Regions from separate parts of the Homo sapiens genome. Here region 2 is linked to region 1. The links come from fine-mapping of genetic effects on gene expression. A gene starts in region 1. The other region holds a variant in brackets. All regions are shown on one strand. Distances are between the middles of the regions. Region 1 holds the start of NRG1 (neuregulin 1). Region 2 overlaps NRG1 (neuregulin 1).

What was found.
Region 2: its variant is fine-mapped to the expression of NRG1 in whole blood (TOPMed, PIP 0.96).

The regions. Positions count from the first base shown.
Region 1 is chr8:32,543,770-32,552,814 of GRCh38, forward strand. It overlaps NRG1 (neuregulin 1), which reads left to right and starts at 4,542. Exons shown (of 12, transcript NM_013964.5): 1 at 4,542-5,057. The coding sequence starts at 4,958.
Region 2 is chr8:32,569,172-32,578,216 of GRCh38, forward strand. All of the region lies in intron 1 of NRG1 (neuregulin 1), which reads left to right. Among named protein-coding and RNA genes, the nearest start is that of NRG1, 25 kb to the left of the region's middle. The variant T/G (reference allele first, on the strand shown) is at 4,761.

The DNA of each region.
Region 1 (9,045 bases):
AATTCTAAGCTCATAATTTTATCATAAAACTGTCTTTACAGCAGACAATGACTAATTAGTAATTCTATTAAATATTTGCCAAATGGAGGGTACCACTTCTAGTTTTGCCAGAGTGTCTTGCTGGTCAGAAGTGCTTTGCCTAATAAACTCAACATGCATGTTGATGCTAAGAGTCTAACTGAACACACAGGACAATCGCAAATCTGTGAATTATTAAGCCTCCTTTCACCTCAATTTCCTCCCTCATAGGATGGTCTTTGCTTATCTCAGTTTTGTGTGTATTCCTTTTGATTGCTTGTTAATGTCTCCTATTTATAGTGATATTATGTAACAGTATTATTTAATCTCCAAAATAGTATACAATTGTCAAGTACCATTGCTGTAATTATGGTGCAGATGTTGGAATATGCTTGGAATCACTAAAAGTGAATTTACCATAAGCTAAGGAAGCTTACTCTTCAGGGACTCTGACTTGCAAGAGCCTATTTAATTTCTTATTACCTAAATTTGTAAGTTTAATTTTGCAGTATTTTTCTTTTAAAAGATCCCCCAAATTTTATGAGCTTCATTTCCAGAAAACTCATCTGGCCTTGTTTTTCATATTGTATTGTCATATTTAATTTGTTTTTATGCCTTTCTCACAATATTTTAGGTTCATGAGATCAGAGACAGTATTTTATTTGTTTCTCTACTGCCTAGCTTATTATTTATTTATTTATTTATTTATTTATTTATTTATTTATTTATTGTTATGAGACAGGGTCTCACTGTCACCCAGGCTGGAGTGCAGTGGCACATTTATGGCTTACTGCAGCCTCAACCTCCCAGGGCTCAGGTGATCCTCCCACCTCAACCTCCCAGTAGCTGGGACTACAGGGGAGCACCACTACACCTGGCTAATTTTTGTATCTTTTTTTTTTTTTTTTTTTTTTTTGTAGAGACAGGATTTCCTCATGTTGCCCAGGCTGGTCTTGAACTCCTGGGCTCAAGCAATCCACTCATCTCAGCCTCTGAAAGTGTAAGAATTACAGGCATGAGCCACCATGCCCGGCCTGTCTATCACTTAGTTCAGTAAATGCTTGGTGAATGAATGAATCATATACATTTAGTGGTTGTTTTGAAGTTGACTCTGCTGAGTGAGATTTTCTTTGCATTCATGCATCTTCATTAATGTCAACTTTGTTGCAGTTTTTAAAAAAGTAATCTTTGTTTACATTATCTTAAGTTACTTGATTTAAAAAAGTTAAAAGTGACTATTTGCAGAATTCTAAAGTCCCATTACTGTCAACATGCATAATATTTTGCCAAAAATGCAATTTGTCTTGTTAGTCTTCTTTAATTTTTCCATGTTTTAAAACTTTTCTTGGAGTATTTCCCAAATGGGATTTACTGAGAGGATATATTCAGCCAGCTTTGTAGATTCTAAGAGTCCTTCTAAAAGTTAAGTCTAGCCAAGGAAAAATGTAGTGGCACACGATTGCGTTTCTCTTACGCTGTCATTTAATGTGAGATCTAAATTTTGCATTTCTTTAATGCCCAAGGTGTTTATTTTTTAAAATCTGTACTCTTTTTATCAGGAGTTATGTTGACAATTTACCTGGGAGCTGATATACCCTATATAATACATGATCTAAGACCTGAACAATACACAAATTAATAAAATTAAACCATTAAGATATGTCATCATTTCTAAATTATACAATTGGGTTTTTTTTTTAAAGCAAAAATATTCTTCCTCTTTTCTCCATCCCTTGTTCTGGTCAGTTCCAAGGTTTTTTACAAATGCAAAAGAAATTCATTTGCTACTCCTGACCACAGAGATGAATAATTTAAGGACAATATCAAATTCTTGATAAATCTCATAAATGTTTTAACTGTCCAAGAAATGGACATTTATTTGGTTAATCTTTTAGCTGGCCATAAATAATGTAATAAAACCCCTTAAAATTAACATTAAATAACATAAAGACCTAACGATTTTTAGAAAAAAACCTTTTTGGACTGAGCCTTGAATTTCCTGAGAATTCAGCTACAAGTGATAACTAAAATGTAACTCGAGAATCTGGATATGGTTCCAGAAAGGATTGTTGTCATGCAATTGCCATTTCATCATCTTTCCTTAAAGTCCCTTCAATATTTATCATTGCAATTTTTGTCCTGTCTTTTCCCCTCCATCACATCAAACCAAGGAAAAACAATTATTAAATGCTCATTTATACTCACCTCCCTCCCTTCATATTCATTCATTCCTCAGCCCTAAAATTCCTGTAGGAATCCTGCTTTTACGTTTTATCTTAAAGCCACCATAGTATCTGTAATCTCTTTTGTAGTCATGTATGCTTAATTTTGGAAGACTGTCAACTACCTCTTCAGGTTCATTCAAATGAAAATGTATCACAAAATCGTAGGCTCTTCCCCTATCTCACTGAAAAATTACTCTAAAAATGACCAGTAAGCTGTTTTGTTGAAGCAAAACATCCAGACCCTAAACAAAAGTAGCAGAATTACAACATTTCCATAGAAATGGATTTTGAGCTTCTTTTTTTTAATTGGGGAAAATCTTATTTTTTAAAAAAGAATCCCAGAATACATCTTTGCTTTCAGTCCTTCAATTCTAACATAATGCCATGTTAGAGAATATGTGGTAGTGTATACTAAGCCCTTATGCTGTCTCACATCCTTGGGACAAAATATCTGTTTTGAAAGGACTTCTCTGAATTTTGCTATTTCCTGCTTACTGAGCAGTGGCCCCCTCCTGGGAAAACAGAGTTATTTCAGCCAGTGTTCAGACTCCATCTTGCATACGTCTCTGTGGAATATTAATAGTGCTACTGAGATATATTCATCATCTTTTCTCTGCTTTTGCTGTCTTTATAGCCCAGTGAAATTTATATTTGGTGTTTGTAGGAAGGCTATCAGAAGCTACTTGGACATCAAACTTTTAAACTATAAATAATGATGGCAAGACTGCTAGGATATCTTTCCACAGTTAAACCCATTCAACAGAGTTTCGTTCTTATGACAGTGCAAATTAAACTAGAATAAAATTAGTGTGATTTTAGGACAGTTTTAAAGTGAACATATTTCCCTCCCTCCCTTCCCATCTACATATCAAGGAGACACTCCAGACTGCACTTTTATTTAAATTGCGGCCATCAGAAAATACCGTGAGAAGGTAGTGTGTAGGTAATGGTTCAGTTAGCATTGACCCCAGAAAATGGAAAACCAAGAGCAAGTCACTTTTAAAGTGAAGCAATAGATTTTGAATATGGATTGTTCCAACTCACCACTTCCCGACCACAACACAAGAGTATTTCACTGTAAATTAAGAGTCTAAGTTAACCACAGCTGTGGTATAACTCTGAGAATGTTTTCTCTACATGTAGACAATTCTGGATCCTTCCGTGGTGCCCGTTACCCTGGTCTTTAACTTTTGTCCTTTGCAGGGGAGGGGTCAATGCCTTCTTATTTCCTTGCTCTTTAGAATTCTCCACCAGAGGGAGGACAAGGGAAGGAGTAGGTTTCACGCGCAGTTCTGAGTAAAGTTTGAATCTGAGAAACCCCACATTCACGAATTAAGGATCTCCAGTTCTGTGTCTTTATTCTACCCCTCCCTGCCTGCTTTTCCACTCGGCAGAACTGAGTGACTTTCAGCGGCTGCAGTAATTTTAATTATTCTGAGTCGTGCTCCGAACTATGTTTTTTATCAGTTCCTCTGAAAATTAAGTTGTAGTAAGAGACGTAGTTTAAGGGCACCCCCTTAGAAGAGGCCAGGTTATTTTTTAAGGAAAAGCTGAAGATTTCTAACAGGCACTTACTAAACACACACACACACACACACACACACACACACACACGCACACGGCGCAGACCCAGCAGGAGAGCGCAACCTAGCATCTTTAAGGTTCGCTTAGCCCTTCCTGTGCACCTGGAAGGAAGCCTTATCTTAAACTCCCTTCCACCTAGAGTTTATTTTCGCCTGCGTGCGACAGGGCTTTTGTACTTAAGTGAGTTAAGGAATGAACCCCGAACTCTTCTGGGAAAGCCACCAACGTTCCCCCCGCACCCCTCCCAGGGTTCCTGACCACGGAGACTCTGCTTGGGGCACAGGTGTGGGAGTCGCAAACTTTTCTCTGCGCCGTCCTTTTCCGCGTGGAATGGGACGGAGCAGCCCTCCCAGGCGCTGCCTGGCTGCGGAGGGGAGCGGGCAGCGAGAGCCTCGGGTCTCCGCCTGGGTTCCCGGGTCTCCGGGGCGCTGGCCTCGGTCTCCGCGCAGCGTCCAGCGACCCCTGTCGGGGGTTCCCGGCAGCCGCGCCGCCACCCCCCGCCCGGCCAGCGCGGGAGGAAAAGGGGCTGCGCCCGGGAGCGCCGAGCCCAGGCTCCTCCCGGTGGCGTGTCCGCGCCTCGGGGTGGGGGTGTGGTGGGGAAGAGGGAGGGGGCGAGGCCAGGGGAGGGTGCGAAGGAGGCGCCTGCCTCCAACCTGCGGGCGGGAGGTGGGTGGCTGCGGGGCAATTGAAAAAGAGCCGGCGAGGAGTTCCCCGAAACTTGTTGGAACTCCGGGCTCGCGCGGAGGCCAGGAGCTGAGCGGCGGCGGCTGCCGGACGATGGGAGCGTGAGCAGGACGGTGATAACCTCTCCCCGATCGGGTTGCGAGGGCGCCGGGCAGAGGCCAGGACGCGAGCCGCCAGCGGTGGGACCCATCGACGACTTCCCGGGGCGACAGGAGCAGCCCCGAGAGCCAGGGCGAGCGCCCGTTCCAGGTGGCCGGACCGCCCGCCGCGTCCGCGCCGCGCTCCCTGCAGGCAACGGGAGACGCCCCCGCGCAGCGCGAGCGCCTCAGCGCGGCCGCTCGCTCTCCCCCTCGAGGGACAAACTTTTCCCAAACCCGATCCGAGCCCTTGGACCAAACTCGCCTGCGCCGAGAGCCGTCCGCGTAGAGCGCTCCGTCTCCGGCGAGATGTCCGAGCGCAAAGAAGGCAGAGGCAAAGGGAAGGGCAAGAAGAAGGAGCGAGGCTCCGGCAAGAAGCCGGAGTCCGCGGCGGGCAGCCAGAGCCCAGGTGGGTGCGCAGCGCGGCCCGGGCCCCACGATCCTCCTCCTGCTCCTCCTACTCCTCCTCCTCCTCGGATGCCGTGGCCTCTCCCTCCCCCTCTCCCTCGCCCGTCCTCTTCGCCCTGCGCTCTGAGCGCCCGTTGAGTCGCGCGGTGCTTCCCCTCCTGGGGGCCGCCGCTCACCTGGGCGCCGAGTCCTACCGGGCGCCTACGCCCAGAGCTCAGGGCAAGGGACAGCAGTCCCGGCCGCACCCTCCCAGAGTCCCGGGAGCGCTTCGCTCCCTGGCACGGCCCCTCCCCAGCGCCTTAGCGGCTGAGCCCAGCCCGGGAGTGGGACCTGGGCTATAGGAGTCGAGGCTGCGTGCGCGCGTGCCCCGCGCCATAAGCGCTTTGCACGGGGGCCGTGTGCCCTCTAGCGGGAAACGCTGGAATGGGCCGCCTGGAGGGAGAGCCGGTCCCCTCGGTGTGCCTGGCAGCGCAGAAGTGGGTGGTCGAGCAAGAGGCCGCGTGGGAAGTTAGCTTCGGCGTTTTGGGGCACAGGGCAAGCGATGTAGAGTGCGCGCCGGTTCATCTTGATTCAGTCCTGTGCTACGGAGACTCAAGAGCAGCGGCAGGGATTCCTAAAGGTCAGCGAAGCAGATGAAATCTAGTCCAGTGTCAGGAATCAGCTCTGCCCCAAACAAGTTCTACAAACTTTTGGCTTAACAGTTCTATTTTTCAAGACCTCTGTGATAAATATGGATAATTTACTTTCCCAAGAGATGTAAGAAAACAACCGTTTATCTGAATTTTTGAACCCAATTGTTTGCTGGTTATCTATATAATAAAATGGCAATTGAAGCTTTCTAGAAACAAATCTTGTATTTCATCATCAGAACACGAGCATGAACAAAAGCTTTACCTTAGATGTCCCTAGGAAGCGCTGATGCTTTGGACATTACCTTGGACAAAAGAGGCATGTCGAATAAATACTTGTTTATGAGTGATTGGTAGGTAGCTGATAAAAGAGGGGAGGAAGGAGATGGGGGAGAATTTATTTTTTGCCTCTGCAATTCCCAATTATTAATTGATCCAGATGCCTTAAGTCGCTTCGAGCGTACCCCCAACACACATTTCATGAAGCACTTCTGCAGAATTAATTCACTAGTACTTGATAATACTGTGGCTACAGTAATACTGTAGAAGTATTTGTCCCTTGCTGGAAGAAAACAAACCACATTTGCTTGGTCTTCTTACTGGTATCACTGATAGCATTTCAGAACCTGGGTTATTGGCAGAGACCTTCAGCAGAGTTTTGAGCAAAACAGAAATTGAACAGAGAGTAATTGTTTCACCACTGGCCATTCTTGTGCTTGCTTCTTTAATAAGATCCTGCTGATCATATTCACTTCAATTACTGATCATTGCCCCTCATGAGGGTGTATTGAATTTTCCCTTATTTTTACCCTATATTTTGGGGAGAGACCATAGCACTTTATTCAACAAGATAGGAAATTGGGGAGCTGGATTAGTTACCTCCCTGCGTGACTTTGTCTACTGTCCTTTCTAAGGTCATCATAGTACATTACGGAGATTTCAGACCTAGCTCAAATCGTTGTAAAGAGTTATTTTGGGGGCTCTTATCACTGTTTGTGGTTGTGTTCTCCTGTCTCCCTGCTCATTGGCTTCAGAAGAAGTTTCTGTGGTCCTCTGTAGATGGTCTAATGAATTAAGAAGGGGCCAGCGGTCTGAAGTAGCATCCTGTTCAGGTAATAGGTGTGCATTTTGTCAAGGGCTCCCAGCAGCAGTACCGTAACACAGCAACTTGACAAGTTCAGTGGGGGAGGGGCAGGCATTTCTGTGCCCTCCAGATCTCATCTACTAGGTAGGCAGCTGTCTTGTGATTAGCTACGCTCTCTTGACACAGAGCACCAGAGCTTCCTTGGTGGCTCTCATCTGCTTTCCAGTGGTACAGCAGTGATTCCCTGTAAACCAGCTAAGTCAGTATCTTTAAGTGACATTTGCTTAACTGTCTTCCCTGAAAAATTGGGGTGAATTTGGCTGTAGGTTAGTTTTTAGTATATTTGTCTCTGTTTTCCACCAGATTATAATCTTTTTTGGGGAGGGACTTTTTACCCCCTTCGAAGCATCTTGTGCTTTTTAAACCAGATAAGAATATGTATTCTTTATTTGATTCAGAAAGAATGGTCAACAACTTGAAACCAGCTTTATATAGAAGCACATGGCATTAAATACAATGCTTCAGAATCAGTGTTTCTTTCCTTCTTTGTCATTTTCCTTATAATGGTAAGTGCCAGTGTAGTTTTCCTTGTCTTAGGAGAATTCATACCTGATGACTATAATGGTTTGTGAGAAAAACCCACACTCTAGGTTTCAGGCATTCCCAAAGGAACGACCTATAGATGCCATAACTCTAGTATTCACACTTGCCGTGCCAGCCCAAATTAGGACTTAGGAGGACAAGTTTCTCTTGTATTGCTCCCATCTTAGTGCCTGTCAGTTCCAAGTTTCACTCCTTTCTTAAAACAGCCACTGCAACTGTCTGTCCTTGATGATATGTATGCAATAGCCAAGCCTCTCTTCAGCTGTTTTAACATTGCCTCATGACAGTCAGGGGAGAGATAATGGGGTGGGATCTCAGCCACTCAGCCCCGCTGTGTGCTATATTGTACGCATAGGCATAAACACATCTGTTGGAGGGAAATTTTCAGGGGGAAAAGGCTTCTTTAACTTTCATATGGCATGAGTGACTGATATGCGATACATACATGGCTATTTCAGAGCATCTGCACTTTTATACAATTAACTAAATGTTGAATTGCACACTATTGGGGCTGCAGATGTTCAACACAATTATCTATTCCATAATAATAGCTCTAATAGGTCCCAAGCCCTTGGAGTCATTGATTCCTTTTCTTTGCTCAAAATAAGCAAGCTAAGAATAGTCTTGGGTGCTGTATCACTGATCCACGTACCAAGAGCCCTGTAACAGCCTGGGTCTCCTTGGTGCTGGACCTCCCATATCCAGCCTCTTCATACTGATTCAGCTCAACAGACTTTTTCTCTTGAAGCCTGAATTACAAAACCAGAGCTTTTTTTTTTTTTTTTTTTTGACGGAGTCTCGCTCTGTCGCCAGGCTGGAGTGCAGTGGGTGCAATCTCGGCTCACTGCAACCTCTGCCTCCTGGGTTCAAGTGATTCCCCTGCCTCAGACTTTTGAGTAGCTGGGACTACAGGTGTGCGCCACCATGCCCAGCTAATTTTTGTATTTTTAGTAGAGACAGGGTTTCACCATGTTGGCCAGGATGGTGTCGATCTCTTGACCTCGCAATCCACATGCCTCGGCCTCCCAAAGTGCTGGGATTACGGGCATGAGCCACGGCGCTTGGCCGCTTTTTTTTTTTTTTTTTTTAATTTTTGGCCAATTGGTATTTGACTCTAAGCTTCCTTTGTGATTCTCTGTCGATATGTTGTTCTTACTCTGCACCTCTGCACGGAATTCTGTCTTTTTTCTTTTTCCTCTTAAATAACCTGGGAAAAATTCACTATCATGCCTAGCCAGATTCTAGAACTATCCTGTCTCCCTTCACTCCTGGTAGGAGGGGCATTTGTGAGTCTGGGTGATGGAAACATTGAGAAACCTAGTATCCCAAATAGGTAGAAGCAGGCTGTGTGTTTCCCCAATGACATCACCCACCTGTTTCCCTCACTAAGTGGCTCTGCAGGCTGAAGTGCTTGTAAACATTCTTGCGTATAAAGTACCCTGACCCTAACGGGGCAGCCTGTGTTTACAGAACAAGAGGAATGTCCAGTGATCTGTTTCAACCTGGTTACTTGTAACCACCTAGCCTATGTAATTATTAAAAACATTAAAGATTATTCACAGAATGAAATAGGACTTATTTTGCAGAATTAAAATAGCAGGAAGAGCGGAAGAAAGTTGTATATTCAGACATGAATACTTCTCATACCCATGAAATGGTCAGATAACACTAAT
Region 2 (9,045 bases), 25 kb after region 1:
CCCAAGTAGCTAAGATTACAGGCGCACACCACCACACCTGGCTAATTTTTGAATTTTTTGCAGAGAGGGGTTTTGCCATGTTGGCCAGGCTGGTCTTGAGCTCTTGACTTCAACTGATCCGCCCACCTTGGCCTCCCAAAGTGCTGGGATTACAGGCATGAGCCACCGTGCCTGGCCAGGCCAAGATGATTCTTGAAGTGTGTGTGCTGTGCGTACTGTGTGTGCATGTATACGTACATTTCTGATGGTTCACTTTAGTGATACTGTAGTTCAGTTTATCTGGGATTGCCTCAGTAGAAAGCTATACTCTTACTTGTTTAACTTTCTGTCTATTTTCTCCTTTAAAAAAGAAAAGATTATATAGTAGACTTATACTTGGTATCTGTCTGAAAAAAATTATATGAAAACTGTCTTTATTGCCAGGGAAGCACTTGTACTTTCTTTTCTCATTTATTCTTTTCTGCACTTTAATATTACAGTTTATTTGCTTCTGGCTTTCTTTCATAATTTATCAGAAATACAGGCTTGTATAGAAATCACCATTTTTTAAATAAAATTTTATTTTTATTAAATTATTGTGAGCTCATTGTTTTTTAAAACAATCATACACAAGTAAAACATTTACCTTGGGGGTGGGCATCAGTTCCTTTTCCCATCCGTTTTCATCTCTAGTTTTCTTTCCTAAAAACAAGCCCTCTCAACAATTCTAGTTAATTCTTTTTCTGATAGTTATCTTTTTTTTTTTTTTTTTTTTGAGATGGAGTCTTGCTCTGTCTCCCAGGCTGGAGTGCAGTGGCGCGATCTTGGCTCACTGCAACCTCTGCCTCCTGGGTTCAACCAGTTCTCCTGCCTCAGCCTCCTGAGTAGCTGGGATTACAGGCACACACCATCACGCCTGGCTAATTTTTGTATTTTTAGTAGAGACGGGATTTTTACCATGTTGGCCAGGCTGGTCTCGGACTCCTGACCTCAGGTGATCCGCCCACCTTGGCCTCCCAAAGTGCTGGGATTACAGGCGTGAGCCACTGCTCCTGGCCTCTGATATTTATCTTTATATTTTCTATATAACATGCATGTTCTGCTGTTTCTTTTTTAAAAACCTTTTATTTTAGGTCTTATAGGAAGCTTGTGCATTCATTTATTCAACACATAATTATTAAGTACCTAATACATTCTGTACATTGTGCTAGGTTCTGGAAATAAACAGAGAATAGAACAGACATGATTCTTATCCATGGAGAGCTTATATTCTAAAGATGCTAGGAAGTACTTTTAAATAAAACTCTGACTTATATATAAAAACTTCAGAAAAGAAAGGGCCTGCTTTTAAATATTTTTTTTGGTGTTGTCCACTACTTGAACTTCATCAAGTTCATCAGAAAAAATTTAAATGGTATTTCTAAATAAGTGGTTTGCTCCACTCTATCATTAAGCTTGTTAAGATGAATAAAAATCAGAATATTTTCAAATGTATGTAAATACATACATTCAGTGTATTTCCCAGCTTCAGAAAGTCCTAATTTCTGAAAGTCCTTGTTATCAACTCTTGTTTTGAAAGGACCCTTTCTTTAAGATAAAGTGTCACATACATTATTTTGTATTGATACAAATTATTGATGATTATGGATATTTTAGGTAATCAATACTAAGATAATTATGTTAATATGAATTATGATTATAGGGTATTGGTAACAGACAGGAGTGTAGGTGAATGATATGAATTTGCACTGAGTTTGTCATGCCCAGAAAGTTAATCTGAGCCAAATTTCTAAAAAGTGCCTTCCTTATTCCATATTATGTATGAAAGAAGAGCATAGTTTATGTGTGAATATATGGGCAACATGTATATAGATGTCCACATGAACTGCGCCTGGTTAGGTCCTAGAAAAGCCTATGGTGGGAAAGGTGGGTTAAGAGGATTGAAGTTAGGAGTGAACTTGTTATAGTCTTCATAAATATTTTTATAGCCAGTAACATAAAACAATAAAGACAGTGCTCCAAATTAAAGATACAGCAATGACATGACATCTACATTTGAAACTAGTAATAATGGATGCCGGGCCCTATTACTAATTTCTGCTTAGCATTCCTTACTCACCAGAAATGTTTTAGGATCTTAGTTCCTTTGCAGCTTGGGATGCTTGTAAATTCACTTGTTCTTTTATAAATAATGTGCATACAAGGAGATTTTCAACAGCATTTTCTTATCAAAGGTCTGGGCCTATAGTCAAATAGTCAATGCCATCGTGGTTTTACAGCACCCATGAGGAGGTGTTGACGTTCAGGTTTTAGCTTCAGGATTTTGACTTGTGTCTTCTTCCTGCTTGGGTCCTGTCTCTTCCCACCTCCCCAGCTCAGCCTTCATGTACGAATTTTAGATTCTTTTGCCTTCGTATCAGCCAGCAGAAGCTAGTTTTTTGTTTTGTTTTGTTTTTTTCAAGGCCTAGGTTTCCTTTTACTCACATCTTTCTTCAAGCTTTATTTGCAAACACCTCCATTCCTCTTGCCATTACTTTTGCTTCATGTCTATTTCAAAACTCTGTTTCATCTTTTTCTTGTTACTACCAATAGGAGTAAATTGAGTGACTTGCAATTAAGGTACAACAGAAGCAGAATTTTCAAAGTTACTCAAAAGGAATAGGTAGAAAAATTCCCATGGTAAGACAACTCAGTAAATAATTACATACAGGCAGTGACCATATATGCTCATTTTAAGTTACAAATATACACACATGGCCATAAAAATAGTCAGAGACTGAGCTGGAACTCAATCCGTAAACTGATTCCAAACCCCATGTAATTTTTATACACAGTTTATTGCTAGCTTTTTGTCCTTTTATGTTCACTTTTATGTCCTATCTTCTCTATATTCCTAAGTTGCCCACATTTTAAAATCTGCCTGTCTTCTGACTTTTTACCACAAGTGTTTTTTTCTCATCCACTTTTATTATTCTCATTTCCTGTTTTCAAAGAAACAATTGCAACACATTTTAGAAATGCTTACGACATAAGTGGCACACTCCTGAAGTCTTTCCAAAATCTATTTTCCTCCATGTCTTAATTTTTGAAATTTATATACTTAGCTTCTTTCTGCTAATTCCCACAGAAAAACTCAGCACAATTTTATAAGCAATGTGAATGATCTTAGAGCCCTCATAGGAATAAATTGCACAGAATGTTATCAATATATCATAAGTGAGGTACAGGATTAATTTTCTAAGATATCATTTAAAATTTCTTCTATTGTTACTATACACATTTGATTTATTAAGCCAAAACTTCATTCCTCTAAGAATAATAATCCCGTCACAGTTCTAATCCTAGCATAGTGTCGTCTTAACTGCAATGTACTATCCTAACTTTCAATTACATCTTATTTCAGCTTTCTTTATTATACAGTAGCTAAAAATCATTGATAGTTATAAAGACCATAATGCCATAACCTCTCAAATTTAAACAGGATAGAATATTTTATGTTACTAATACAGCAACAGAGGCATTTTCCTCTGTTGGGTAGATGCAATTATTCAGATTCCAAGTGGTTGAGACATTCCATAATTATGTCTCTAATTTTACATTCTACAGGCCTCATTTCCTCTGTCTGATAACTGTCCTCACCCAAGGGTTTCTACAAAGTCACAGTTTGGGTGAATCTGTCATCTCATTTTTTCAAAGAAGGAAATCATCATCAAATAAAATTATACACACCAAATAAATAAATATCAAATAATATATTAATCTACAAATTTGCGACATATTTATTTTCTGACTTTGAGGTTAATTTCGCCACCATTTTTCCTAATCTGTATATCCTATCCCCACTTGCAAACAATGTTTTGCCTGAACCGAGTAATGGCAACATTTATCGTAAGTATATCTTAGCTTCTTCTCCTTATCTGAATGGGGTTCTAGTTCCCTTAGCATTCTCAGATAACATTCTGAATATTCTACTCTGTATATCCAGTTTGTTCATAGACCTCAAAATGCAGACCCTGCATGGATTATTCCCATTCTGCTGTCTGTCTTTATGAAACCTGCCAATACTTATTGCTAGATGAAATTCTACAGATGTTCCATGATGACTTATTGACTCGATAACAGGGATCTGCAAACATTTCTGTAGAGACCCAACTCTGCAGTTGTAGCACAAAAGTAGCCACAGACAATTTATGAGCAAATGAATGCAAGTGTGCTCCAATAAAACTTTATTTACAAAAACAGATGGTAGGCAGGATTTGGCTTATGAGCCGTATTTTGCTGACCTCTGCTCTATAATATTCCTTGAAGAGATACTATTATCCCAATATCCTGACATAAAATATATATCCTTACCATTTGCTGTAGCAATATTCAATTTTTCTTTACCTGGCGTTGCTTATGTTCTCCAGCCAGTTCTGTCTTTTCATTAGGAATCTGAGTTAGGATTTCTTAGAACTATGTATTTGGGTAAGTTTATCAAAGGCCTTTTTATTTTTATTTTTTATTTTATTATTATTATACTTTAAGTTTTAGGGTACATGTGCACAATGTGCAGGTTTGTTACATATGTATACATGTGCCGTGTTGGTGTGCTGCACCCATTAACTCGTCATTTAGCATTAGGTATATCTCCTAATGCTATCCCTCCCCGCTCCTCCCACCCCACAACAGTCCCCGGTATGTGAAATTCCCCTTCCTGTGCCCATGTGTTCTCATTGTTCAATTCCCACCTATGAGTGAGAACATGCAGTGTTTGGTTTTTTGTCCTTGCGATAGTTTGC[T/G]GAGAATGATGATTTCCAGCTTCATCCATGTCCCTACAAAGGACATGAACTCATCATTTTTTATGGCTGCATAGTATTCCATGGTGTGTATGTGCCACATTTTCTTAATCCAGTCTATCATTGTTGGACATTTGGGTTGGTGCCAAGTCTTTGCTATTGTGAATAGTGCTGCAATAAACATACATGTGCGTGTGTCTTTATAGCAGCATGACCTTTTAAAGATCTTAGGAGCATAATGCTGTAACCTCTCAAATTTAAACAGGATAGAAGATTTTATACATTACTAATCTGGTTGGGTAGATGCAATTATTCAAATTCCAAGTGGGTGAGACATTCCGTAATTATGTCTCTAATTTTACATTCTCCAGGCCTCATTTCCCTCTCTCATTTCATCAGGTCTTCAAAAGGCTTTTAATAAACTTACCCAAATATATAATTCTAAGAAATCTCAAATTCAGTGCTTGATCAGATCACTGTGTGGTATAGTTTGTATATTTTTCCCCACCCAAATCTCATGTTGAATTGTAATCTCCAATATTGGGGGTGGGGTCTGGTAGGAGGTGACTGGATCATGGGGGTGGATTTCTCATGAATGGTTTAGCACCATTCCTTGGTGCTGTCCTCATGATAATGACTAAGATCTGGTCATTTTAAAGTGTGTGGTCTCTCTCTCTTTCTCTTGCTTGCTCGCTCCTGCTTTCACCATGTGATGTCCCCCACTACTCCTTTGCCTTCCGTCATGATTGAAAGCTCCCTGAGGCTTCACCAGAAGCCTGGCAGATGCCAGCATCAGGCTTCTTGTAAAGCCTGTAGAACTGTGGGCCAGTTAAACCTCTTTTCTTGATAAATTACCCAGTCTCAGTTATTTTTTACAGCAATGCAAGAATGGCCTAACACAATGTGTAATCTTTGTTTCATAGAGTTTACACTACAGCTTTGCCACCTAACTCTCCTATGTTAGTACATAGAATTTCTGAACCTTCAATCCTGTTCAGAATGCCAGATTGTGAGAGAATCAGTTATGCTTCAACCTTGAAAGCATGGAGTTCTCTGCTTTCAGGGAACTCCAGATGACTCAGGAACAGAAGTAAACCCTAGACAAATCTAAAGCCAAACATAGAATAAAGCTGAACAGCAGATCATAAATCCCATTCCTTGCTCCCTAGGAATACCTCTTCTTCTAACTCCAGCTTCAGATTTTTCCCCAGGTTTCACAATTGACCTTTGTCTTAGTGTCCATACTGGTTGGACATACCCCTCTGGCATAGACATTCATGATAGGCATTGCCATTCTTCATGATATGTCATTCTTGGCTACTTCCTCTTTTTCTAGGATGCATGTTTTAGCTCACTTCATGTTCAATTGCCTTGTGGTTGGCCTACTTCTTCTTTCTCTTCTTTCCTACTTTTGTGGTTGCTTTATAGTTGACTAATTACTAGTTCATCGGCTCTGCTTATTGCCTAATACTATAAAAGTTCCCTTCCTGGAAGGGTTGGGGATGGGAAAGTGGGGGTGGGTGGTAGTAAAATTAACTAAACTTTGTAGTGGGCTGGAGATAGGGCATGAGTAAAGGAAAAGTTGTATTTTAGGACTGCTCAACTGCATGGATATTTATACTTTTTAAGACAAGCAACATTAACAAAGTCTGGATCTTAAAGTAGAGATCTACACTGGAGATAATAATATCCCTGTGGGCATTTAATGCTCATGGTTACCTAGAAAATAAGTATAAAGTAGGAAATTTTGAGAGAGTATTCTTGTAAAGATTAAATGGTGACACCAATGTAAGGCTTGAATGTTCTAATAAGGGTGAAACTTGGTCTGGGAATGGCAGTTCTTACACCTTTTATAATTCTTAACTGTTATTTTTTAGATCTGGTCATTTAAATCTGAGGACCCAGATATGCTAGTCTTATAGAAAGCACAAATTTAAAATGGGTTCTTTGTCTTACATAGCTCTAAAGTTTAGGAAAAAAGTATCTTCAAGCAACCTTCATAGGAATTCTCCAAAATAAATGTGTTCCTGATTAATATGTGTTTTATTTTTTAAAATTTATTTTTAATTAATTTTTAAATTGACAAAATTGTATGTATTTATGGTATACAACGTGATGTTTTGAAATATGCATACACTGTGGAATGGCTAAAGCAAGCTATTTAGCATACGTGTCATCATCTCACATACCATTTGTTTGTGGTGAGGACATTTAAAATCTACTCTCTTAGCAATTTTCAAATAATGTAATTATTTTAAATCAGTTGTTTAAATATTATGAAATTACTTTCAGCCCTTAGAGAATAGTCCATCTCACATGACACATAAAAATGGAAGGAGGTGTCTAGCTCAGGAGAAACTTTTTGGAATATTTGATTCTCTTTCCCTCATTTTCTCTTCTTTTTTTGTTTTTTAAAAAATAATTTTTAAACCCTGTATTGACTCCTGGCTATTATTTTGAATATGAGTGCTAACAATTTGAGCCTTGTAGATAACTATCCCAATGCCAATTGAACCATAATTTTCATTTGTCTCTTTCTACAAGATTCTGAATTTTTTCAGAAGTGAAATTAAGTCTCAATTCCCTATAATTTACCCAGGGCAATAAATCTTAAACATTTTTTCTTAAAAAAACAAAACAAAACATTTTTACTGGAAAGACTTTATGGGGTGGACATTAACTCTGTAAATGCCATATAACTTTTGGAGAGGGCTGCCCCTGGCACAGTGTAATATTTATGAGAAAGTTGTGCCCATACTAACCACCTGTATGAGAATCGCCTGCGATGCTTTTGTTTAAAAGGCAGATTCTTTTTTCCCTATATTTTTCTCTTTTTAAAAAAATAATTTCGACTTATATTTTATATTTATATTTATATTATTTTAAAAAATAATTTCAACTTATATTTTATATTCAACCTACGTATGCAAGTTTGTCATATGAGTGATATTGCGTGGTGCTGAGGTTTAGGGTACGAATGATCCCATCACCCAGATACTGAGCATAGTACCCAATAGTTGGTTTTTCAACTCCTGTTCCCTCCTTCCCTCCCTGCTCTAGTAGTCCCCAGTGTCTGTTTTTGCCATCTTTATGTCTATGAGTATTTGATGTTTAGCTCCTACTTATAAGTGAGAGCATGGAGTATTTGGTTTTCTGTTCCTGCATTAATTCGCTTAGGATAATGGCCTCCAGCTGCATCCCTGTTGCTACACAGGATGCAGTTTCATTCCTTTTTATGGCTACATGATATTCCACAGTGTGTATATACTACATTTCCTCAATGCAGTCCACCACTGATGGGCACCTAGGTTGATTCCATGTAAAAGAGCATATTGTTAGGCTTTTCTCTGAATTACTGAATCAGAGTCTTTCAATGGGTTCCATGAATATTTCATATTCATTTTAGTAAACTTGCTCAAGTGACTTATGTATACAGTTATAGGTTTGGGAACCTCTGGCCTGGGGAAGTTGTCTGCAACACCACTGACAGGTCCCTGTCCTGCCACAGACATTTCTGCTGTAACTCCATGCTTGCATTTTTTGGGAAAAACAAAGCAAGACAAAACAAAACTCATTTTGCAAAATGACACACAAAATAAAGAGGCTTCTGGAAAAAGTAGGGCTAGGTGAAGAGAATTCAAAACTTACGAAACTATAAACTGAACACCAACAAGAATAACAATGAACCTAATAAAAAACTAGCATAGTTATGGCTCTAACAACATTTATTCTCAACAACTTAGTTAAATCGTTGTACCCTTAAACCTTAACACTTTTTTTTTTTGTTTTTCGAGACCTTGGTTCTTGAGGACATTTTCTTCTAGCAGAAATCAGTATTAACTTCTTTATCCATCTCTCTCTTTTTTTTAAACTGTTATGTACCATCATTATAGCACTTCTTACAAAAATGAGGAGCTGTCTTTGTAACTTCATCTGTGCCATCAGCTTTTCCAGATAGTTTAACATAAAAGGAAGATGAAGTGGTTCTGGAAGCAAGAAAACCAGCCACCACTTGCAGTAAGGAAGGCAGGTCTATGGGCCTATTAGCTCATGGAGGTTTTTGTTTGCTTGTTTGTTTGTTTTTGAGATGGAGTCTCACACAGTCGCCTGGTCTGGAGTGCAGTGGCTCCATCTGAGCTCACGGCAACCTCTCCCTCCCAGGTTCAAGCGATTCTCTAGCCTCAGCCTCCTGAGTAGCTGGGATTACAGGCACCTGCCACCACGCCCGGATAATTTTTTGTATTTTTAGTAGAGACAAGATTTCAGTATGTTGGCCAGGCTGGTCTGG